Homo sapiens: one gene and its partners. The protein of the gene in region 2 interacts with the protein of the main gene of each other region in a biochemical or structural test. Each region holds a gene or a part of one and is shown on either strand. Other genes may lie near its edges. The genes, in order: USP1, TAGLN and RNF14.

Evidence for each region.
Region 1: the proteins of TAGLN (region 2) and USP1 form a complex in vitro, tested with the Homo sapiens proteins (one study listed by BioGRID).
Region 3: the proteins of TAGLN (region 2) and RNF14 form a complex in vitro, tested with the Homo sapiens proteins (one study listed by BioGRID).

The regions. Positions count from the first base shown.
Region 1 is NC_000001.11:62,444,811-62,452,304, forward strand, and holds the end of USP1 (ubiquitin carboxyl-terminal hydrolase 1), read left to right. Parts: coding exon 1-619; intron 620-2,530; coding exon 2,531-2,701; intron 2,702-3,654; coding exon 3,655-3,856; intron 3,857-5,435; coding exon 5,436-6,171; 3' UTR 6,172-6,994; downstream 6,995-7,494. UniProt on the Homo sapiens protein: Negative regulator of DNA damage repair which specifically deubiquitinates monoubiquitinated FANCD2. Also involved in PCNA-mediated translesion synthesis (TLS) by deubiquitinating monoubiquitinated PCNA.
Region 2 is NC_000011.10:117,194,191-117,203,539, forward strand, and holds the start of TAGLN (transgelin), read left to right. Parts: upstream 1-5,179; 5' UTR 5,180-5,242; exon of another isoform or gene 5,243-5,639; intron 5,640-5,660; exon of another isoform or gene 5,661-5,722; intron 5,723-7,570; exon of another isoform or gene 7,571-7,724; intron 7,725-8,811; 5' UTR 8,812-8,823; coding exon 8,824-9,003; intron 9,004-9,116; coding exon 9,117-9,294; intron 9,295-9,349. Other genes in the region: SIDT2 (SID1 transmembrane family member 2 precursor), read left to right, coding at 1,612-1,725, 1,814-1,876. UniProt on the Homo sapiens protein: Actin cross-linking/gelling protein. Involved in calcium interactions and contractile properties of the cell that may contribute to replicative senescence.
Region 3 is NC_000005.10:141,983,867-141,990,792, reverse strand, and holds the end of RNF14 (E3 ubiquitin-protein ligase RNF14), read right to left. Parts: intron 5,991-6,926; coding exon 5,860-5,990; intron 3,061-5,859; coding exon 3,003-3,060; 3' UTR 501-3,002; downstream 1-500. UniProt on the Homo sapiens protein: E3 ubiquitin-protein ligase that plays a key role in the RNF14-RNF25 translation quality control pathway, a pathway that takes place when a ribosome has stalled during translation, and which promotes ubiquitination and degradation of translation factors on stalled ribosomes.

The DNA of each region.
Region 1 (7,494 bases), on a different chromosome or scaffold from region 2:
ATTCAAGAAACATGCCAACTCCTAAAAAAAGAAGAAGTAAAAAATGTGGCAGAATTACCTACTAAGGTAGAAGAAATACCTCATCCGAAAGAGGAAATGAATGGTATTAACAGCATAGAGATGGACAGTATGAGGCATTCTGAAGACTTTAAAGAGAAACTCCCAAAAGGAAATGGGAAAAGAAAAAGTGACACTGAATTTGGTAACATGAAGAAAAAAGTTAAATTATCCAAGGAACACCAGTCATTGGAAGAGAACCAGAGACAAACTAGATCAAAAAGAAAAGCTACAAGTGATACATTAGAGAGTCCTCCTAAAATAATTCCCAAGTATATTTCTGAAAATGAGAGTCCAAGACCCTCACAAAAGAAATCAAGAGTTAAAATAAATTGGTTAAAGTCTGCAACTAAGCAACCCAGCATTCTTTCTAAATTTTGTAGTCTGGGAAAAATAACAACAAACCAAGGAGTCAAAGGACAATCTAAAGAAAATGAATGTGATCCTGAAGAGGACTTGGGGAAGTGTGAAAGTGATAACACAACTAATGGTTGTGGACTTGAATCTCCAGGAAATACTGTTACACCTGTAAATGTTAATGAAGTTAAACCCATAAACAAAGGTTAGTATAATTCTTAGACTTTGATAGGTAGAAGCATTAGCAGCTACAGAATTAGAATTTTCTCTTCCTAGATACATGTACAATATAATCTCTGGCTAAAATTGTTTCAAGAGAAGGAAATTTAACACTGAATGTGAACTATGGTGTTTTAAGTGCTATGCTTAGATTAGTGTGTGTGTATATATTGTATGCATATATATGTGTGTGTGTGTGTGTGTAATGTCATTAAAGTAATTTTAATTTATAGCTTATAAAGTAGGGAAGTTCGGCCAGGTATGTTAGCTCGCACCTGCAATCCCAGTACTTTGGGAGGCCTAGGCGGGCAGATCACCTGCGGTCAGGAGTTCAAGAGCAGCCTGGTCAACATGGTGAAACCCCGTCTCTACTAAAAATGCAAAAATTAGCCAGGCATGGTGGCGCACGCCTGTAGTCCCAGCTACTTGAGAGGCTGAGGCAGGAGAATCGCCTGAACCCGGGAGGTGGAGGTTGCAGTGAGCCAATATTATGCCACTGCACTCCAGCCTGGGGCGACAGAGCAAGACTCCGTCTCAAAAAAAAACAAATAATAATAAAGTAGGGAAGTTCAGTATATTTTAATGTACATTTAAGAGTACATTTCCCTTTATGCAGTGTTTGACATAAACTGATGAAGGACATTGCATTTAGTGAAATTTTAAAAGTAAAGACTAAGTACAGTCATGTGTTGCTTAACAACAGGGATATGTTCTGAGAAATGTGCTGTTTCATTGTGTGAATTTCACGGTGTACTTACACAACTAGATGCTAGAGCGTACTACACAACTAGCCTATATGGTATAGACCAGGGTATCTAATCTTTTGGCTTCCTTGGGCCACACTGGAAGAAGTGTCTTGGGCCACACCACACAGAATACACTAATGATAGCTGATGAGCCAAAAAAAAAAAAATCAAAAAAGTCTCATAATGTTTTAAGAAAGTTTATGAATTTGTTACGGGCTACAGGCAAGCTTTGCATGGCCTATTGCTCCTAGGCAACAAACCTGTATAGCATATAACTACTGAATACTGTAGGCAACTGTAGCACAATGGTATTTGTGTATCTAAGACGTATCTAAGCATAGATATGTAAACATAGGTACAGTAAAAATAATCATAGACTACTGTCATATGCGGTCCATTGTTAAATAATTGAAACGTTGGTAGGTGGTGCATAACTGTAAGTTACACGATACTTGAACTAGATTTTTACCTAGTTTTGTCCAGATCTACAGATATCAGGGAAAATGTGTAATATTGATATAGTGAATAGTTTTACCAAAAATGTCATCCTTATTCTGGGTTTATTCTATGGGGAGGTGTCTGTAGGAAGGGAGTTACAATACAACTGACTTTTTTTTATTTTTTATTTTTTTTATTTTTTTGGAGACAGAGTTTTGCTCTTGTTGCCCAGGCTAGAGTGCAATGGCATGATCTTGGCTCACTGCAACCTCCACCTCCCGGGTTCAAGCGATCCTCCTGCCTCAGCCTCCCGAGTAGCTGTGATTACAGGCATGCACCACCACACCCGGCTAATTTTGTATTTTTACTGGAGACAGGGTTTCTCCATGTTGGTCAGGCTGGTCTTGAACTCCGACCTCAGGTGATCTGCCCGCCTCAGCCTCCCAAAGTCTTGGGATTACAGGCTTAAGCCACTGTGCCCGGCCTACAACTGACTTCTTTTAAAGACAGTAATTTCATAGTCAGTTTTATCTTTACAGGGACCTTAAATTTCATTAATAGGGTACCTCTAATAAGCTAATAATGCTAATAAGCTGATCTATGAAAATGGAACTGTTATTCATGATATACTTTATTTAAATGGAAAATTGGTTATTTGGACTATAATGAGAAACTAATCTGTATAGACTTACATTTTCCTATTTTCATTTTAGGTGAAGAACAAATTGGTTTTGAGCTAGTGGAGAAATTATTTCAAGGTCAGCTGGTATTAAGGACGCGTTGCTTGGAATGTGAAAGTTTAACAGAAAGAAGAGAAGATTTTCAAGACATCAGTGTGCCAGTACAAGAAGATGAGCTTTCCAAAGTAGAGGAGAGTTCTGAAAGTAAGCAAAATTGGAGTCTTGTGTGGACCATGATGGAATATTTATAATTCTTTAACAACACAAAGTTTAATAGTAGCTGGTGTAATTAGGGAGGGGAAAAAAGCTAGCTTTTAGTGTCTAATGTAACCTTTCTGCTTATCTGGCTTCACTTATAAATGGTTAGCATTTGGGAAATTGTGACATCTTGATTTTGATGTAGAGTGTGTTAGAATGGAAAACTGAAATGCTTTAATAAGTGTACTTTTGGGAACCTGAGTCTTTCAGAGCTACTGAGGGTTTTTTTTAATTTTTTTGAGATGGAGTCTTGCTCGGTTGCCCAGGCTGGAGTGCAGTGGCGTGATCTCGGCTCACTGCAAGCTCCGCCTTCTGGGTTCATGCCATTCTCCTGCCTCAGCCTCCTGAGTAGCTGGGACTGCAGGTGCCCACCACCACGCCCGGCTAATTTTTTGTATTTTTAGTAGAGACGGGGTTTCACCATGTTAGCCAGGATGGTCTCAATCTCCTGACCTCGTGATCCGCCCGCCTTGGCCTCCCAAAGTGCTGGGATTACAGGCGTGAGCCACCGCGCCTGGCCTACTGAGGTTGTTTTTAACACAATAATTGAGCCACTGTTGTGTCTAGAGCATACCACAAAATATGGAAATACCATAGGAAATAATCATGAGACAGGTTTACCTATCACATATTGAAAGTTGGCAATTAAATGTAAACAGACTAGGCTTATTTTGTTTTTGCTGTCTATCATATTTTTTGGCCGATCAAATATATTTAAAAGGTATGTATACTGTTGAGGATGCACTTATGAAAGTAGTTTCTGAAAGTAAAAATCTCTTTAGTTATTTAGGAATGGGTCGGTCAATTGAAATTAAATGCTAATTTTGAACCTGAAACTTTGTGGTTTATTTTTTGAATGCCTGAGAGAAGTATTTGAGTGAAAGGATTCTCTTTTTTAGTTTCTCCAGAGCCAAAAACAGAAATGAAGACCCTGAGATGGGCAATTTCACAATTTGCTTCAGTAGAAAGGATTGTAGGAGAAGATAAATATTTCTGTGAAAACTGCCATCATTATACTGAAGCTGAACGAAGTCTTTTGTTTGACAAAATGCCTGAAGTTATAACTATTCATTTGAAGTGCTTTGCTGCTAGTGGTTTGGAGTAAGTATTGTAAATAAGAACTATATGAAGAAAATGAGCTGCTGTAGAAGATAAGTCTTGTTCAAAATGCTGTAATAGTAGGAATATAAAGTACTGAAATGAAGTAGATTGTAAAGATTGCTTCAGTAAAGTTTTGTTCTTATTAACAGTTTCCCTGTAAAAATGAAACAACTTAAATCCTTTTGATATGAATACATATTCTATTAAGTATGATTTCTTCTCCTTTTTTTTTTGAAACAGGGTCTCATTCCAGTTGTCCAGGCTGGAGTGTAGTGGCACAGCCTCAGCTCACTGCAGTCTTGACCTCCCAGGCTCAGGTGGTTCTCCCACCTCAGCCTTCTGAGTAGCTGGGACTACAGGTGCATGCCACCATGCCCAGCTAATTTTTTGTATTTTTAGTAGAGACAGGATTTCACCATGTTGCCCAGTCTGATCTTGAACTTCTGGACTCAAGCAATCCACCTGCCTTAGCCTCACAAAGTGCTGGGATTACAGGCGTGAGCCACCATGCCCGGCCAGTTTCTTTATTCATCTTTTCATATTCATTCCCTCTTAGATGTTAGTAGCAGAATTCAGTAGAACTGACTAAAGCAGGGAACAAATTTTGTATACATCAAGATTTTTTTGAAGGGGCGGGAAAGGCTAAATTCTTCCTAGTTTTAAGGTAAGCCAGGAAATCAAACTAGTCTTTCAACAGTTTGAAAAAAAATGCTGATTGTTTTGGATAGTCTGTTTTTTTCTGACATGTGTAATGTCATTGTATGTGTGACTCCTTTGTACATTAGTTGCTTGTTTGAAATTACCACGAGGGCTTCACAGTAGCTCTCTCACACTTGATTATGTCAAAAGATAACATATAGCCCCTTATTCAGTGGACCTTCCCTTTGCTAATAGTATAAAATACTATTTTATTTACTTTCCCAAATTTTGGTAGAGAAAAACTTCACACTAAAAATGACTAAAATGGGCTGGGCGTGGGTGGCTCACACCTGTAATCCTAGCACTTTGGGAGGCTGAGATGGATGGCTTGCACCCAGGAGTTCAAGACCAGCCTGGGCAACATGACAAAACCCTATCTCTACAAAAAATACACAAACTAGTTTGGCGTGGTGGCGGGCACTTGTGGTCCCAACTACTCAGGAGGCTGAGGAGGAGGAGCCTGAGGTGGGAGGATCACTTGAGTCCAGAAGGAGCCATGATTGCACCACTGCAGTCAGCCTGGGTGACAGACCCTGCCTTAAAAAAAAAAAAACCCAAAACGTAACATTTTTGGTTCCGGTTCAGTCTATTTAAAATACCATTTATTTTCTTAACTGCACAAAATTAGGAAAATAAAGGAAAAAATACAATTATTTCTTCCACAGAAATGCCTGAATATTAGCAGTTATTTATTTTTTTGTTTCTGCATATATTATAAATATTATTCAAAGTTGGGGTCTTGTTTTGATTCTGCTTTTCTGATATATGAACACTGGATATTAAGGGTTCATTCAGATTTTTACTTGGTTTCAGATTGGGGTATAACATTTTGAATTTAAAATAGAACTGCAGGAAACCTTTTCTTTTTTTCCTCCCAAAGGTTTGATTGTTATGGTGGTGGACTTTCCAAGATCAACACTCCTTTATTGACACCTCTTAAATTGTCACTAGAAGAATGGAGCACAAAGCCAACTAACGACAGCTATGGATTATTTGCGGTTGTGATGCATAGTGGCATTACAATTAGTAGTGGGCATTACACTGCTTCTGTTAAAGTCACTGACCTTAACAGTTTAGAACTAGATAAAGGAAATTTTGTGGTTGACCAAATGTGTGAAATAGGTAAGCCAGAACCATTGAATGAGGAGGAAGCAAGGGGTGTGGTTGAGAATTATAATGATGAAGAAGTGTCAATTAGAGTTGGTGGAAATACACAGCCAAGTAAAGTTTTGAACAAAAAAAATGTAGAAGCTATTGGACTTCTTGGAGGACAAAAGAGCAAAGCAGATTATGAGCTATACAACAAAGCCTCTAATCCTGATAAGGTTGCTAGTACAGCGTTTGCTGAAAATAGAAATTCTGAGACTAGTGATACTACTGGGACCCATGAATCTGATAGAAACAAGGAATCCAGTGACCAAACAGGCATTAATATTAGTGGATTTGAGAACAAAATTTCATACGTAGTGCAAAGCTTAAAGGAGTATGAGGGGAAGTGGTTGCTTTTTGATGATTCTGAAGTCAAAGTTACTGAAGAGAAGGACTTTCTGAATTCTCTTTCCCCTTCTACATCTCCTACTTCTACTCCTTACTTGCTATTTTATAAGAAATTATAGAGTGAGTGTATTTTCCTTGTGTATATATTAAACACACCCATACAAACATTGGTAAAGTTGATTACATCAAAGAATCTTTAGCTTATCTTTTGAAGCTACTGGATATTATTGGTCTCTCTAGGTTTTTATATAAATAGTGAAATTTGAATTACTGAAAACCATGTTAATTTTTAGAACTCATTTTCCTCAGTAGAGACTAGTGATGCATTAGCTTCTGGGAACAAACTTGTATCGGTTCTTAATTAAATTATCCAAAACGGAGGCATTTAAACACTTGGATTTACACCAGTCTTTTGTGTTTGCTTTTTAAAATAAAGTGCTCGTATTTGTATTCTCCATATTTTGGAGTAATTATCTACATGATGTTTATAGTTCCTGTGGTTTTTCACCCAAGAAGCAGAATCTCATTCAGTACATTTAGTTTTATAAGAGTCATGAAGCTAAATCCTTGGGCTATGTCAGAGGCACAAAGTCTAGAATGTGTGTATTCACAATGGTGTATGTACATTTTGTGCCTTGATTCACTTAGAAGTGTCTCAGAAAACCTGGACAGTTCGCTTCTACACAAGAATTTTATATGTATTTATGAAGATGATTCTGTACCCTAGTATATCTTTTTGGGCATGGACTAATTTGTATCTGTTTAACTCATATTCTGCACGATCTGTATATAGTACATCAAACTTAGAGGTGTGACCTTAAATTTAACTTTTTTTAAAAACTGGGAGGTCAATAAAATTTAAACTGCTTAACTATGTATATGAATATTTGAATTTTTTACTTGTATATTTTTATAAATACAGCTGAGTTTTCTTAAAGCGAATAAGTGTGTGTATATATATATGTATATATATGAGAGAATAAGCATGCATAATTACCTTTATTACTGAATACTTTCTGACAGTGCAGGAGTTTTTCAAAGAGGAGAAATTGTGCTTAGTCCAGCCAAGCTGTCATACTTAAAAGAGGTTTATAATGAAATCTGTTGCATCTAATTGTCCTTTAAAGTAGACATGATTTAATGGAATCCAAAACTGGAAAAGTTAAGATGATGCTTTGGGCACACATAAAAACTTGGTTAAAATTTCATTTTAAACTAGTATACTGAAGTGGTAAGTGATGAATGATTTCATGACTTGTTAATGGACATTCTTGGTACTAAGTTTTTCCTAGAAATGATTCTAAATATGTAAATGCTATTGGGGTAACACTTTAATACCCCATTTCAACAAGGAGTACCTTCTCAATTAAAAAAAAATCGCAGTAGGCTGGGCGCGGTGGCTCACGCCTGTAATCCCAGCACATTGGGAGGCTGAGGCTGGT
Region 2 (9,349 bases):
AGTAGTCCTAGCTACCTCGGAAGCGGAGGCAAGAAGATAGCCTGTGCAGGAGTTCCAGGCTGCAGTGAGCCAAGATTGCACCATTGCACTCTAGCCTGGACGATAGGCCATGTCTCTAAAAAAAAAATTTTAAACATCATTTGGGAACACCTACCATAGGCCAGCACTTTCATAGCGGCTTCCCCAGTTAATCCTCCTAGCATTCCAGCCTGGAGATAGCTCCAGTTTACTTACGAGACAGATGAGGCTCAGAGAGGCCAAGTGACTTCCCCAGGGCACATAGCCAGTGAGTGGCACAGCTGGCATTTGAAGCCAGCAAGGCTTGGCTCTCTTCTCTGCCTTGCAGGACACCTACCACATGTCAGGCTTTAATTCTGGGAATAGAACTAAGTCTGACATGGTCTCTGAGGGACTCATAAACTAGCCGAAGAGGGCTAGAAGGACTGTTGGTGCATGACTGTTAGTGCTGTTTACGATGTGATACATGAAATGAAGGGCACAGGCAAGACGGGGCAGGAGGACAGAGGACTAACGGGTCTCTCCGAGTTAGGAGTCCAGGAAAGCTTCCTGGAAAAAGTGCGCCTTGTTCTGGGCTATAAAAGTCTTGGGTGAGGAGGGCTGGGCACGGTGGCTCACGCCTGTAATCCCAGCACTTTGGGAGGCCGAAGCGGGTGGATCACGAGGTCAAGAGATTGAGACCATCCTGGCCAACATGGTGAAACCCCATCTCTAGTAAAAATACAAAAGTTAGCTGGGCGTGATGGTGGGCGCCTGTAGTCCCAGCTACTCGGGAGGCAGAGGCAGGAGAACGGCTTGGACCCGGGAGGTGGAGGTTGCAGTGAGCTGAGATCTCTCCACTGCACTCCAGCCTGTCAACAGAGCAAGACTCTGTCTCAAAAAAAAAAAAAAAAAAAAAAAAAAAAAGTCTTGGGTAATGGAGAAGAGCCCCATGGCCCAGACCTACTGTGACCTTAGTAATGATACAGGGGCAGATTTGGAGGTCAGTGAATGCACTCATTTGGGAGCCAGGCAGACTGTGAGCTCCCTGAGGGTGGGGCAGGTCTTGGTTATGTCTGTGGCCTCAGCATGTAGCACAGACAGACACAGCCTGGATGAGCTTATGGGATAGAGCTTATGAGTAGAGCAGGGAGGACCTTGAGTGCCACAGGTTATGGCTACTGTCCCGGAGCAGGTGTGTAACCTGACAGTAGTGCTTTGGAAAAAACAATGAGCCTGCAGAAAGATTAGAGCAAGGGCGGAGTCCAAGGCCGGGAAGTGGGTGAGAAGGCCTTCTGCCATCTCTGAGCTGAAGGCCTTCAAGGTTGTTGCAACCCTGTGCTCTTAGGTCAAGGGAAGAGAATCAGAAGGAAGGAGGAGGGTAAGAGTGAAAGAAAAGGGAAGAGAAGCCAGTGAACTCAGGGAGAAGTTTGTAACCAAAGGCCATTTGTTAGATCGGGAAGGGGTAGGGACAAGGACAAGGGACAGGTCAGAATTGCTGCTGTCCTGCCTGGGGCTGGAGAGAGGGGTGCCCAGGAGCAAGATGGCAGATGGGTCTGGCCCTTGCCCTGCCAGAGCAGGGTCATTCGGCAGTTTTTCTTGTTGCTCCCCAAGAAAACCCCTGCAGAGTCGAGGGAGCACAACCGGGACTGCATCCTCCTCGACTTCTTTGACGACCACGACATCTGGCACTTCCTCTCCTCCATCGCCATGTTCGGGTCCTTCCTGGTAAGCGGGCCTCCCGGCCGAGCCGGGTGGGTACGTGAAGGTAGCAGCTGCCTCCTTCTCTGTGGCTGATCTGGCGTCCACACCCCAGGTGTTGCTGACACTGGATGACGACCTGGATACTGTGCAGCGGGACAAGATCTATGTCTTCTAGCAGGAGCTGGGCCCTTCGCTTCACCTCAAGGGGCCCTGAGCTCCTTTGTGTCATAGACCGGTCACTCTGTCGTGCTGTGGGGATGAGTCCCAGCACCGCTGCCCAGCACTGGATGGCAGCAGGACAGCCAGGTCTAGCTTAGGCTTGGCCTGGGACAGCCATGGGGTGGCATGGAACCTTGCAGCTGCCCTCTGCCGAGGAGCAGGCCTGCTCCCCTGGAACCCCCAGATGTTGGCCAAATTGCTGCTTTCTTCTCAGTGTTGGGGCCTTCCATGGGCCCCTGTCCTTTGGCTCTCCATTTGTCCCTTTGCAAGAGGAAGGATGGAAGGGACACCCTCCCCATTTCATGCCTTGCATTTTGCCCGTCCTCCTCCCCACAATGCCCCAGCCTGGGACCTAAGGCCTCTTTTTCCTCCCATACTCCCACTCCAGGGCCTAGTCTGGGGCCTGAATCTCTGTCCTGTATCAGGGCCCCAGTTCTCTTTGGGCTGTCCCTGGCTGCCATCACTGCCCATTCCAGTCAGCCAGGATGGATGGGGGTATGAGATTTTGGGGGTTGGCCAGCTGGTGCCAGACTTTTGGTGCTAAGGCCTGCAAGGGGCCTGGGGCAGTGCGTATTCTCTTCCCTCTGACCTGTGCTCAGGGCTGGCTCTTTAGCAATGCGCTCAGCCCAATTTGAGAACCGCCTTCTGATTCAAGAGGCTGAATTCAGAGGTCACCTCTTCATCCCATCAGCTCCCAGACTGATGCCAGCACCAGGACTGGAGGGAGAAGCGCCTCACCCCTTCCCTTCCTTCTTTCCAGGCCCTTAGTCTTGCCAAACCCCAGCTGGTGGCCTTTCAGTGCCATTGACACTGCCCAAGAATGTCCAGGGGCAAAGGAGGGATGATACAGAGTTCAGCCCGTTCTGCCTCCACAGCTGTGGGCACCCCAGTGCCTACCTTAGAAAGGGGCTTCAGGAAGGGATGTGCTGTTTCCCTCTACGTGCCCAGTCCTAGCCTCGCTCTAGGACCCAGGGCTGGCTTCTAAGTTTCCGTCCAGTCTTCAGGCAAGTTCTGTGTTAGTCATGCACACACATACCTATGAAACCTTGGAGTTTACAAAGAATTGCCCCAGCTCTGGGCACCCTGGCCACCCTGGTCCTTGGATCCCCTTCGTCCCACCTGGTCCACCCCAGATGCTGAGGATGGGGGAGCTCAGGCGGGGCCTCTGCTTTGGGGATGGGAATGTGTTTTTCTCCCAAACTTGTTTTTATAGCTCTGCTTGAAGGGCTGGGAGATGAGGTGGGTCTGGATCTTTTCTCAGAGCGTCTCCATGCTATGGTTGCATTTCCGTTTTCTATGAATGAATTTGCATTCAATAAACAACCAGACTCAGTTCTTGGGGCCCTTGTTTGCACTCCCTCTGGGTGGAGCTGTTGAGGATGAGGGGAGAGGCGGAGGTCTTCCATTTCCCCATTCTTCAAGCCATGGCCCTACTGGGAACTGCAATTCCTTGATTCTCCCGTTTTTCCTGTCCCTCCAGCAACAGCATTAATTCAGTAAACATTTACCGGGGCACTGTGCTGGACAGAGGCCAGTTCCTGGAAAAGCCTTTCCCACGCCATCCCACTGCAGACATCCCTCCTTACCTCCCCAGGAACAGCAGTCTCTGCCCACCTGGCCCCGCCCACCAGACTGAGGCTCACTTCACCTCTGACCTGAGCGGCCCCCAGCTCACCAAGCCACAGGCCCAAGCAGTGCTCCCTGATGCGGCGTTTATAATCCGCTCAGCGTGCAGGCCGAGGCAGGAGGGTGATGAAAGCTGGGCAGGCTCCAAGAGGAGGGAGTTTTGATATGTCCCTGAAAGATTCATTTAGACTTCAGTCGGCTAAGGAGGACATGATTTGGGGGCCAAGGAATCTGTTGAATTCAGAACACAACCAGAGGTCTGCAGGGTCAGGGATGGAGGAGTGGGCTTTCCCCTCGCCAGGGCCCACTCCTCTTCCTGCTTTTCCTGCAGGCGCCACTGGGAGGTGCTATGGCTGTGCCTCCCCTGGGCTCTGGAGCATGTCCAGTTGCAGTGGGCAGAACTGCGGAGGCGGGCCCCTCCTCTGCCAGGCCTGGCAGCCCCCTCCTAGGGCCTTGTTTGGCTAGGGGTGGTGCCGGGTGTGGCAGTGTGTGTGTAGTGGAGAGTGTTAGGTCTTCCCTACCAGATGCCCTTGCAGGGGAGTGCCACAGCAGTCAGTCCAGGGATCCCACTGTTAGTCTCACCTTTTTTAACCTCTTATCTCTCCCCAAGATCCCTGAAGCCAGGTACGAGCAAGATGAGAGTGGGTTATCTCTGGAGTGACAGAGGCTGGTCTGTTTTCCAGGCTGGTAGGGACTGTTCCTAAAGGGAGGAAGGGATGATACCAGCCTCCTGAGCCTCCTTCTCCTGCGTTAGTGTCTCAGGCCCTGCCAGGCCTTATAGACCCTCTTATTGACACTGCCCACTGGATGGGGACCGGAGTTGGACTCAGCTTCTGCCGAACCCTCAAATCCCAGCCCCAACTAAAGCATATAACTCAAGACCTACCTGCACTGAAAGCTCTTCTCAACCTGAGCAGGGTGGTCCAATTGAAAGGGTGGGTCTGACCACCTCTCCTGCACCCATGCGGGTTGGCAGAGGTGTGCAGGATCTGCCACTTACCATTCACCATGTGGCCTTGAGGAAGACGCACTCGGGGCCTCAGTTTCCTCATCTATAAAATGGGGATGTAATTACACCCTCACACTGTAGCTGTGAGTATTCAATGAGAGCACTGCAAAGGGCCTGGTGTGGAGTAGGTCCTCAGGAAAGGTTGGATCCCATGTCCCATCAGAGCTAAAAGCCCCAGGAGGAGAGGGTGGCTGGTTTGTCCCCACAAACCCCTGGGATTCCCGGCTCCCCAGCCCCTTGCCCCTCTCTCCAGCCAGACTCTATTGAACTCCCCCTCTTCTCAAACTCGGGGCCAGAGAACAGTGAAGTAGGAGCAGCCGTAAGTCCGGGCAGGGTCCTGTCCATAAAAGGCTTTTCCCGGGCCGGCTCCCCGCCGGCAGCGTGCCCCGCCCCGGCCCGCTCCATCTCCAAAGCATGCAGAGAATGTCTCGGCAGCCCCGGTAGACTGCTCCAACTTGGTGTCTTTCCCCAAATATGGAGCCTGTGTGGAGTCACTGGGGGAGCCGGGGGTGGGGAGCGGAGCCGGCTTCCTCTAGCAGGGAGGGGGCCGAGGAGCGAGCCAGTGGGGGAGGCTGACATCACCACGGCGGCAGCCCTTTAAACCCCTCACCCAGCCAGCGCCCCATCCTGTCTGTCCGAACCCAGACACAAGTCTTCACTCCTTCCTGCGAGCCCTGAGGAAGCCTTGTGAGTGCATTGGCTGGGGCTTGGAGGGAAGTTGGGCTGGAGCTGGACAGGAGCAGTGGGTGCATTTCAGGCAGGCTCTCCTGAGGTCCCAGGCGCCAGCTCCAGCTCCCTGGCTAGGGAAACCCACCCTCTCAGTCAGCATGGGGGCCCAAGCTCCAGGCAGGGTGGGCTGGATCACTAGCGTCCTGGATCTCTCTCAGACTGGGCAGCCCCGGGCTCATTGAAATGCCCCGGATGACTTGGCTAGTGCAGAGGAATTGATGGAAACCACCGGGGTGAGAGGGAGGCTCCCCATCTCAGCCAGCCACATCCACAAGGTGTGTGTAAGGGTGCAGGCGCCGGCCGGTTAGGCCAAGGCTCTACTGTCTGTTGCCCCTCCAGGAGAACTTCCAAGGAGGTGAGGAGTGTGTGAACGCACCTGTGTTGGAGCACGGTGTCCCACTCTGGCGGGTCCCCAGGGCCTGAGCAGCAGCGATAGCCCTGTGACAATGTGAAGGGCCACAGAACTCTTGTATTCCAGTCAGGGGCAAAGAGTGGAGACGGAAGGCCTGTCCTTCTGACAAGCAGCCCCTTCCACTGTCTGACAGTGGGAGGTCACCCCCACTGTAGCAGAGGGGTGGGGGGCGGGTACTGCCAAGGAGGAGCTTTGGAGTGATAGGCGGGGCAGGCCTGGGACCCTTGGTCTTTCCCAAAGGGTGGTTCCCTTTCGAAGTTGCTATTCCAAAGGTAGCAGTGAGGATGGCACACATTTATGTAGCCAGGCCACTCCTGTTTGTCCGTGGAGTGGAGAGGAGCCACCCTCCTGCCCTCTCAGAGGTCCAGGTGTGCTCACTCCTATTTGGGAAGAGAGAAGGGGCACAGCAGCCCTGCAGGGGCCCCTGGCTCTGCTCGTGTTTCTGGGCTTCTGCTGGTAGGGGGTGCCACCTTCCCGTTTGACCCTGGACTTTCTTTCTCCACTGCCCACTTTCACCCACTGGGCAGCTCAGGGGAGGGGTCCTGGCAGGAGCCACAGGGCAGGAGGGTCCATGCCTGTCCATGCTGTCCTGGGAGTGTCTTGAGATGCCCCTGGGGGGGCCGCCCTGTAATCATCCTCCTCTCCCCCTCCCCACTGGCTCGAAGGCAGGACTCGGGAGGCTTCATCAGAGGACTCTAAAGGATTTCTGGGGATTCTCCACTTTTCGACCCTGACCCAGGAGGAGGAAGGGGAAGGATGGTGGTGCTGGGTGGGAGTGGGGATGGTGTGTGCTTCATCCCCCTCTGACCGAAATCCTAATCTTGTCTCTAGATCTGGGGGCTGCAGCGTTGTGTACCTGTCACCCTTAGCCTTGCTGCTTTGACCTGTATTGTCTGTTCTGACCCTCCTGAGACTGGAAGCTGGGGGTAGGGGACACACTCTCCTTCCATCCTGTTCCTCAGGAGCCCAGCAGGGGTGCAGAAGGGGAAGGCAGACATGAGGGCAGGTGGAGTGGGGGTAGAAGCAGGGCCAGAGACAGAAGGTGGATGCCTGTCTGGGATGGTGGTGCAAAGGCTGAGACAGAGGCTGGGGTGGATGGAAGCCAGGATGCAGGGCTACCAAAATCACCTGGTCCCAGCTGACTTGGGGGTTTGGACCACAGTTCTTTGTGCAGGAGTCCTTGGGTGGTTGGGGAGCGGGGGTGGGACACACAGGGTGAAGGGAGGGATTGGCTGTTTGTAGCTGAACAGCAGAACAGAGCACTCTGCCTTTGGGGTCTCTGGCATCACTGGCAGGGAGAGGGGTGGCTGGGCCAGGAGCCCACCTCATCCCCAGTGCTCAGAGAACTGGGTCCTCAGAAGTGGTCCTGCCCCCACTTTACACATAAGGAAACAGACGCAAGGAGGAGAGGGATGCCCAATGACGGGCACTTCGATGAGTCCGTGTGAACTCTGTTCCGTGTGAGCTGCTGCGCGCTCAGGGAATGATTGTGAGAAGCGGGTGGAGGCTGGAGTGGGCAGCAAAGAACTGACATTTTGAGGTCAGTTTTTCACTCCTTGGTCAAGGGCAGGCTCTCTCCCTGGTCATTACCAGGAGCCTGGCTCCGGGCAGCAAAGAACTGACATTTCGAGGAGCTCTGCTAAGGGCCAGGCAGTATGTGAGGGAGTTCACAGACACCGTCCCATTTTCACAGCCCTCTGAGGTTGGTAACATAACCCCCACTTCACAGATGAGGAACTCCAGCCCAGAAAGCCTGTCAGCCCTGAGAAAGGAAGGGCAGGGCATCGGGCTGGGCAGCTGGCCTGGGACCAGTGGGGTGTGATAGTGTTGGCTCTGCTTCCCGCGGGTGGGGTGCCAGTGGGGAGGGGTCTCACCAGAGAGGGAGCCGGGGGAGTGCGCTCCTGCGTCCATCCTCAGACCAGCGTGTCCCTCCCAACCTCTGACCCCTCTGAGGCCAGGGGATGGGTTCGGCTTCCTTTGGTACCTCTTTTGGAAGTCTCTTCAGACAAACACTGGAGAGAAGGCACAGCACCCTAGGGTGACATCAGTGGACAGGTCAGTTTCCTGTTCCTGTTCCCAGCCACCCCTGTCTGTCTGCCCAGGGACCTACCTGCCTGGCCCACTCCTGCTGCCACCCCTCTCCATGAGTGGGACTCCTGAGCAGTGCCAGGCCCAGGCCCTCAGGGTGGCAGTTGCTGGATGGGGCCAGGCTTCCCATTCCCTGGCAGGCAGACTCTTGGCTCTGGAAGATCCCTGGGGGACTCTGACTTCTTGGTTACTCAGGCTACTCCGTAAGGGTAGCCTTACGAGAGCGTAAGGGCATGAGGGGAAGTCGATGGGTAGACCAGGTGTCTCTGATTTCTCTGAGGAAATGCAGCTTCTTTGCCAAGAACTCTTGGGCTTTGGTGGCTTCGTCGCCCTTGCCTGGGGTGGGCGAGTTTTAGTCTCTTCAGCTGCAGACCAGAAGCTGAGCTGACCTGAAAAGAGCTGGAGTTCTGGAGTTCGGGCTTCCAGGCCAGGGCCTGCTTCTGGGTGAGAGTGGGAGGTAATGGTTGCTTGAGGCAGAGGCAGTAAACCCTCACACCCGCAGCTGGACAAAGGCACCAGCTGGCTGTATTCTGTGGGGGCAATGTGGCTTCTGGAAGGTCTCTCCAGTGGCTCTGTAGCTGGTCTTGGCAAAGAATGTTCTAGACCAAGGGTTGTCAAACTACAGCTCATGGGCCAAATCCAGCCTGCTGTCTGCTTTTGTAAGTAAAGTTTTATTGGAACAAAGCCATGTTCATTTGTTACATATTGTCTATGGCTGCTTTCACACTGCAACAGCAGAGACCATGTGTCCTGCAAAGCCTAAAATATGTTCTGTCTTATCCTTTACAAAAACAGTTTACTGACCCCTGCTCTAGACCTCCAAAGACCTGGTATCCTCTTTCCTGGTGTTCAAGTTCAGAGAGGTGTCTGGAGTAGGGGCTGAGCCTGGCCTGGATGGGCAGTGCTGTGACAAGTGTCTAGGATGGCCGGGTATCCTGCACAGAGCTAGAAGGCTGCCTGGCACGGGTGAAAGCAGAGCTGCTCCCTGACCCTCTGCCCCTCCCTCCTCCACCCTGGCCTGCTTTAGCTTTCCCCAGACATGGCCAACAAGGGTCCTTCCTATGGCATGAGCCGCGAAGTGCAGTCCAAAATCGAGAAGAAGTATGACGAGGAGCTGGAGGAGCGGCTGGTGGAGTGGATCATAGTGCAGTGTGGCCCTGATGTGGGCCGCCCAGACCGTGGGCGCTTGGGCTTCCAGGTCTGGCTGAAGAATGGCGTGGTGAGTGGCACCCTGGGCTAGGGCGCTGGGGGGCTGGGGTGTGCCACCCTGTGAGTCCTGGGCCAATCCCTGAGCTGACTGCTAAGCTGCGTCCTATGCCCTATGCCTGGTAGATTCTGAGCAAGCTGGTGAACAGCCTGTACCCTGATGGCTCCAAGCCGGTGAAGGTGCCCGAGAACCCACCCTCCATGGTCTTCAAGCAGATGGAGCAGGTGGCTCAGTTCCTGAAGGCGGCTGAGGACTATGGGGTCATCAAGACTGACATGTTCCAGACTGTTGACCTCTTTGAAGGTAGAGAGGAAGAGGCTGGGGGAGGAGGTGGGCAGGAGGACAGGGTGCTGGGACA
Region 3 (6,926 bases), on a different chromosome or scaffold from region 2:
GGGAGATTCCATCTCAAATAAATAAATAAATAAGTTATTTGATAGCTTATTTTCATTTATCAGCTCTAGACCCAAACCTTTTATATAAAAATGAAGAGACACTGACTATTCAAACTCCCCCAAAAACACCCAGGAGGCCAGGCACTGTGGCTCATGCCTGTAAATCCCAACACTTTGGCAGGCTGAGGCAGGAGCATTACTTGAGCTCAGGAGTTCACAACCTGGGCAATATAGCGAGACCTTATTTCTACTAAAAAGAAAAAAAAAAAATTAGCTGGGCATGGTGCTATGTGCCTGCAGTCGCAGCTACTCAGGAGGCTGAGGTGGGAGGATTGCTTGAGACCAGATCTCAAGGCTGCCGTGAGCTATGATCGCACCACTGCACTCCAGCCTGGGTGACAGTGAGACCCTGTCTCAAAAAGAAAAAAGGCCCATGAAATTCATACTAATTTATGGCAAATCTCAACCCACTCATAAAAAAAGGCTTTCATGAAATTAAGGTAGGTACAAAACTCTTTATTCTATCATATATTTTGCTGACACCACAACCTTCCACAAACCCATTTGTTTTACAGGGCATTTGGGGAGTTACCCAAATCTTTCATTTTACTGAGACAAAAGTACTCTACCAAAACTATACATCTTAAAATTAGCTCATAACTCATGCTTCAAAAGTATAACTTTATAAGCCCTATTTTCTTTGTTAAAATTGAGTGATGAAGACTTTGTACCTAAGAATCACTAAGGTGACCAAACAAATTTTTGAGACTAAACACCAAATACCTGTGTTGTTTTTAATATCATAAATGGGAAAAAAGGCTCCCATTTCTTTCATAAAACTGTATTATAAAGGCTTCTTTCCTACTTCTATGACATCATCAACAATGTATAACAGCTTAACATAAAATGATCTCTAGAAAATATCAAGTAGCTCACGAACTATAGAGCTTCTGAGTAGCTCTTTCTGAATAAATCTGAATTGAACTCTTTGATCACAGAAATCACTCTTCTCAGGTATATACTGTAGAACAAATCATTTTAATTTCCATTTCTTATCTTTAATTTATTCTTTAACCTCAATTTTTTTTTTTTTTTTTTTTGAGAAGGAGTCTCGCTCTGTCGCTCAGGCTGGAGTGCAGTGGCGCTATCTCGGCTCACTGCAAGCTCCACCTCCCAGGTTCATGCCATTCTCCTGCCTCAGCCTCCTGAGTAGCTGGGACTACAGGCGCCTGCCACCATGCCCAGCTAATTTTTTGTATTTTTAGTAGAGACGGGGTTTCACCGTGTTAGCCATGATGGTCTCGAACTCCTGACCTCGTGATCCGCCCGCCTAGGCCTCCCAAAGTGCTGGGATTACAGGCGTGAGCCACTGTGCCCAGCAAATTAACCTCAATTTTTACACAAAATGTCCTGAATGGAAGACCATGAAACTATCTGGTTTAAACAAAATATGGGCCCTAAAACCTAAGCTCAGTCACAAGCCCAGGTAAAAGAGATGCTATTCTGTGACCTTTTTTTTCTTACTTTAAGAATATGTTATATGCCGAACAGTTTTAAAATGTGATTAGTTGCCTTGGTGACAGAACAAATAGCAGCAACTCTGTTCTAATTATAAGATGATTTTTAAATTTATTTTTATTTTAAGACTAAGCATCCTCTTTGACAATCCAAAAACATAATCCTTGCTCACTCTGGACACACACACCTAAAACAGTTAAAAGTGATTCCTCAATTTGCAATAACAAAGTAGGAAAAAAAGAATACGTTCTCAAGCTGTAGTTCAATTTTTCTGTCCTCTTTTCCAAAAAATGTTACTTTGCTACCAAGCCTCCCACCAATGATAAGGAAAGACAATTTTTCAAAAAGCCAACAAAACCCAGAAAAAGGAACAGGTATCAATTCAAAATTATCACCCAGAACACTGCTGTTGCAAAGAAAGAGTATGAAGCCAAATTCCCATAGCTTGTTAGAGAAGATCTTTAAAAATAATTCAGAAAGTTAGGACTGGAACTACTGTAGTATAGACAGGTTATACTGTCACTATATGCATATACAGTGGTAAATGCAGATATAATTCAAGAACATTCAGCTTGGGAATATATTAAGCTTTCTCCTATTCCAGCAGAGGAAATAAAAACATGTGTTCCTGGAATTAATATTAAAATCATCCTTACAAACAGAAGGTAGGGCAAAGGTAAAGAGAGAGAATGTGGAACAAAAGTAGCAAAGACAAGCCATTTTGAATCTAGGTTCTAACACCCAGGAAGGCTGAATAGAACTTAAATTCTTCTGAGCCAGTATCACTAAATTCTAGATTTGGCCTGAAACCAGTGGACCATATACACCACTAATAAATATCAAGTGCCCCACAGTGTTTGTGGTATTAAAACATATATTTATATTATAAATTTCCATTCTGAAAAGCAGATCAAAATGACACTGGACCATCCAGTCAGTTACGGAGTAATGGGCTTCCTCCAAAGAGAACTGACTTGGCAGAAATTTAGGTTGGTAGGAATGTGATTAACATGGAGTAAACGAGATCAGGTTCTCAGTATAATTTTCATAAGGCTTCTACCCACTCCAGTTGTAAGGAATAGTACTGAGGGAACTCCAACAGAATGTCTTAGAAGGATGCTTCTCAGAGACAAAGGGTCTCTAAGTTTAACTCTTGACCCCTCTTCTCCTTACCTAAAGCTTGGGGAAGAAAATAAATATTTAATTTTTAACTATTCAGAGCTTTGGGCACATTATAATATTTAATATTCTGTAGTTTAATTTTCTGAACCTTTGGCTTATAAATTTTTCTCAACTTACATTTAAAAATGTATCAATGCACCTTCTTCAGTAGTACCACATGAAAATATAAACCTCGTTCTTCCATATCTTCTACGCAGGAAGAGTGAATGAATAGTACCCTAAATATCCCGCAAAGTTACTTTGTGTACTTGACGGAAGATTAGGGAAAAACAATCCACTTCCATATCTTGAGCAGTAGTTAACTAGTCTTCTACCTCATCTTCCCAAATATCGTCGTCAACATCCACAGCATAAAACAGCCTGGAAGCATTAAAAAAGGTACATTTTTATACACTTGAACGAAACAATATAAATTGCCTCTCCGCTGAAAAATATTTTTTGTACTCTTATAACATCTTTGTACATCTTTTCTTCTCCTTTAATCATTGCACTGAGGAGGGCTGAAATATGGGTCCCTCTGAACAATCTACCCTAAAGTTAGTTAAGAATGGCCCATTTAAGGTGGATGAGTACTTGTCCAGCTCCATTCCCACTGGCCTAGAAGATTTAATTGGCTGTCTTTTGGCCTTAAGTCCCTTGGCCATAGGGGTCCCACTGAGGGCCTAGATGGAGGCGAGGCAGGTTAGCCACACCACTCCAGCAATGATATGGGACAAAATAAGTTTGACCATCAATGCTGCCTCTGGCAAATCTCAGCCAAAAAGGGGAAAATGAGAAATAAAAATGATACCCTAAGCCCCACAACCAACTGAACAGACCCTCTCCTGGCCAAGGGAACCCCAGAGAAACCCTGAAAACAGTTCCCGGCCATGATGGGATGGGAGGCCAGACACACCTGGTCATACCCCCCTCCCTCACTGACCACCATTAGGCTTTCTTTCCCTAAGGGTTCAAACCAACCCTTTGGGAAGACTTGCTCCACCGCTGATATCAACCAACTGCCTGATGCTGCCCCTCCCTTCTGCAGTTTTGGCACAAAAACCGACCAGCATTTCTTCCTGCCAATAGACCACTGACCATGGAGTGGTTCTAGCCAGTCTATGGAGGATGTGGACTGAGGTTTTCGTGTTCTCTGCTTCACCTTTTGATATCAGAGAACTCCCCCAGAGATCATGCTAATGCCACCATTTTTTGAACATGGGTCCCCTGAAGGGTAATGAAGCTCAACTGCACATGCAGCGTTTTTCTCCTTTCATAAATATTCATGACTCCTCCTATACCTTACTGAATATGTATATCTGGCTATCTTGTAGGGCATAAATCCCTGTCTTCCTCTTCCCATCCTTAGAGTGTCTGTTTCCAGCTTCTGGCTGAAGGCTATGCTTCCCAACCTGTCATAACAGCCACCTTGCCGGCTTCAACTCTTTATGAGAAATAAAGCTCTCCTTTCCAAATTAAAACAAACGAACAAAACAGTCCTTTTAGAATCCAGACAAATTCTCCAGGGCCAAGGATAAACAATAATGAGGGATAGGTATCACAAAACTGATACTCAGCGTATACAATACATGGAATAAGGCAAGACTGGGGAAGTCAGGCAATTTAAACTGAACCCTTTCAAGACACTATTATTACTACTACATGCTCATCACTCCATTCTATCTTCACAGTCCTTGCACCCTCCATTTGTAGAATGTTTTGTAGCTGTCAATTTGTCTTCCTTTCCTTATGTTATCTACAACTTATGCAATTTCCAACACTAGATTTCCAATAGTTCATGGCAGGGCTTGTTTCTTCAATTTCTCTTACAGTTTCACAATACCAATGTGTTTACTTAACAGACACCTCTTAACAAAGATCATCAACTGATGCTGAAAGTGGAGAGCTCTTGGAGAACAGGATATTCACATTGTGCCAAGGAATCACCCCACAGATTACTTCCTAATAACAAAATGGAAAACTTGCCTTTACAATAAAGCAAACTGTAGAAATGAGCACCACACTAATGAGGGACATCATGGACCTCTTGATGTGATCCAATACGGAATACACATCACTCCTCATGAAGTATCAGCATAAAAAATGTTATTCTAAATCGAATCAAGCTTCAGTCTAGACCTAACTTCCAGTTTATAGCAAATAAGAGAAACAAGCTAAAGGACACCATGGACAAATAAAAGTCTAGAAGGTAAGACGTTATATAAGATAACTGACCTGGACTCTTCAAAAAGTGAATGTTTTGCTGGGTGTGGTGGCTCACGCCTGTAATCCCAGCACTTTGGGAGGCCGAGGCGGGCAGCTCACGAGGTCAGGAGATCGAGACCATCCTGGCTAACACGGTGAAACCCCGTCTCTACTAAAAATACAAAAAAATTAGCCGGGCGTGGTGGCAGGCGCCTGTAGTCCCAGCTACTCAGGAGGCTGAGGCAGAATGGCATGAACCCGGGAGGCGGAGCTTGCAGTGAGCCGAGACGGCACCACTGCACTCCAGCCTGGGCGACAGAGCGAGACTCTGACTCAACAAAAAAAAAAGTGAATGTTCACAAAACACACACAAAAAAAAGGTGGGCCAAAGCTTTTCTGTATTAAGAGACTAAAGAGATAGAACCAAATACAATGACTGAACTTGTTCAGATTCTGGTTCAATCAAATAGCTTTAAAAGATATTTTCAGAAATAATTAGGAAGTTTCAAATATGTTTGTTTACTAGATAATAGTATGCCACTATCATTAAGTTTTTTAAAAGTACTGTCATTATGTAGAAGCATTTCCTTATCTTAGGAGAAACGTGGAAATATTTAGAGTTGAAGCATTATCATAACTCCAACTTCATGTAGTTCAGTAAAAATGTTAAGGGAACAAATATGGCAAAGTACTATCAACTGTTAATTTGGGTGGAAAGTATCCTACTATTCATAGTCCTATCCTTTCAAATTTTCTGTGTTTGAAAACTTTCACTATAAAAACTTCCAGATGGTGTATAAGTCTCATTATAAAACTCATTTTTGAGAAAATAATATGAAAATTCCTTTATAGGGGAAAACATGTAAGAGAATTCTCTAAATAAGTCCAAGTACTTAAATAAAACACTGGATTTGTGGTCTGCAAATCAAGTACCAAAAATTGCTGGTGAGCCTGAGGAATTCTGTGTATACATACCGGTTAAAACATGGTGAACCAGGGTCATTGAAATGTTTGTAAGGGTTTGCTCTAGAGAGAGAACCCATGCAAATCCAACAGAAATATTGCATACAGCCAGTACATGTCATCTTGTTACATCCGTCTAATTTCTGGTGGGAAGGATAGAAAGAGAAAAATATCAAGGCTGTAAAAGCAGAAGAGACAGCACATGCCAAAATGATTCAGTACAACATTGTCTTGGTCCTCTCCCTTTTCTTATGCAGGGTTGAGATATCAATGTAACACACTGATGACTATGTAATTCTTTCTATTTTGCATTAGAAGTAAAATACAGAAAATAGCTAGTGTTACTACAATTAGTTACTTGGCACAATCTCTTCTGACAAGCAGTAGATAAAAATCACACAAGTATAACTGGAAAATGTAGTTAGATTAATATTAAAATGTTTGGATGTAACGTGTGGGTTTTTAATTTTTACAGAAATCTAAGTAAATATTTGGTACCAAGTCCTCCACTCTGTCATAGGGCTAAGGTATGTCAAAAGTGATTATATGGCCAGGTGTGGTGGCTCATGCCTGTAATCCCAGCACTTTGGGAAGCCAAGGTGGGCGAGTCATTTGAGGTCAGGAGTTCGAGACCAGCCTGGCCAACATGGTGAAACCCTGTCTCTACTAAAAATACAAAAATTAGCCAGGTGTGGTGGCTGGCGCCTGTAATCCCAGCTACTCGGGAGGCTGAGGCATGAAAATTCCTTGAACCTGGGAGGCGGGGATTGCAGTTAGCTGAGATTGCACTACCGCACTCCAGCCTGGGCAAGAGAGACTCAGTATCAAAAAAAAAAAAAAAAAAGTGATTACATATAGTCCTAGTTTCCTTAACTGGAGCCCACTATGTTCAGTTCAGACATAACAGATTAGAACAATAGAATCAAATGCTAAGATGTATTTTGATTTTAAAACATATTAAGATTTTTGTCAAGAAGCAATATATCTGTCTAATTATTTTGACTCAAATTAATTCCTGAGTGTATCTTAAACAGGTGTGCAGCATTCCAGGATAAATAGTTCTGAGAGATCAGATTTGA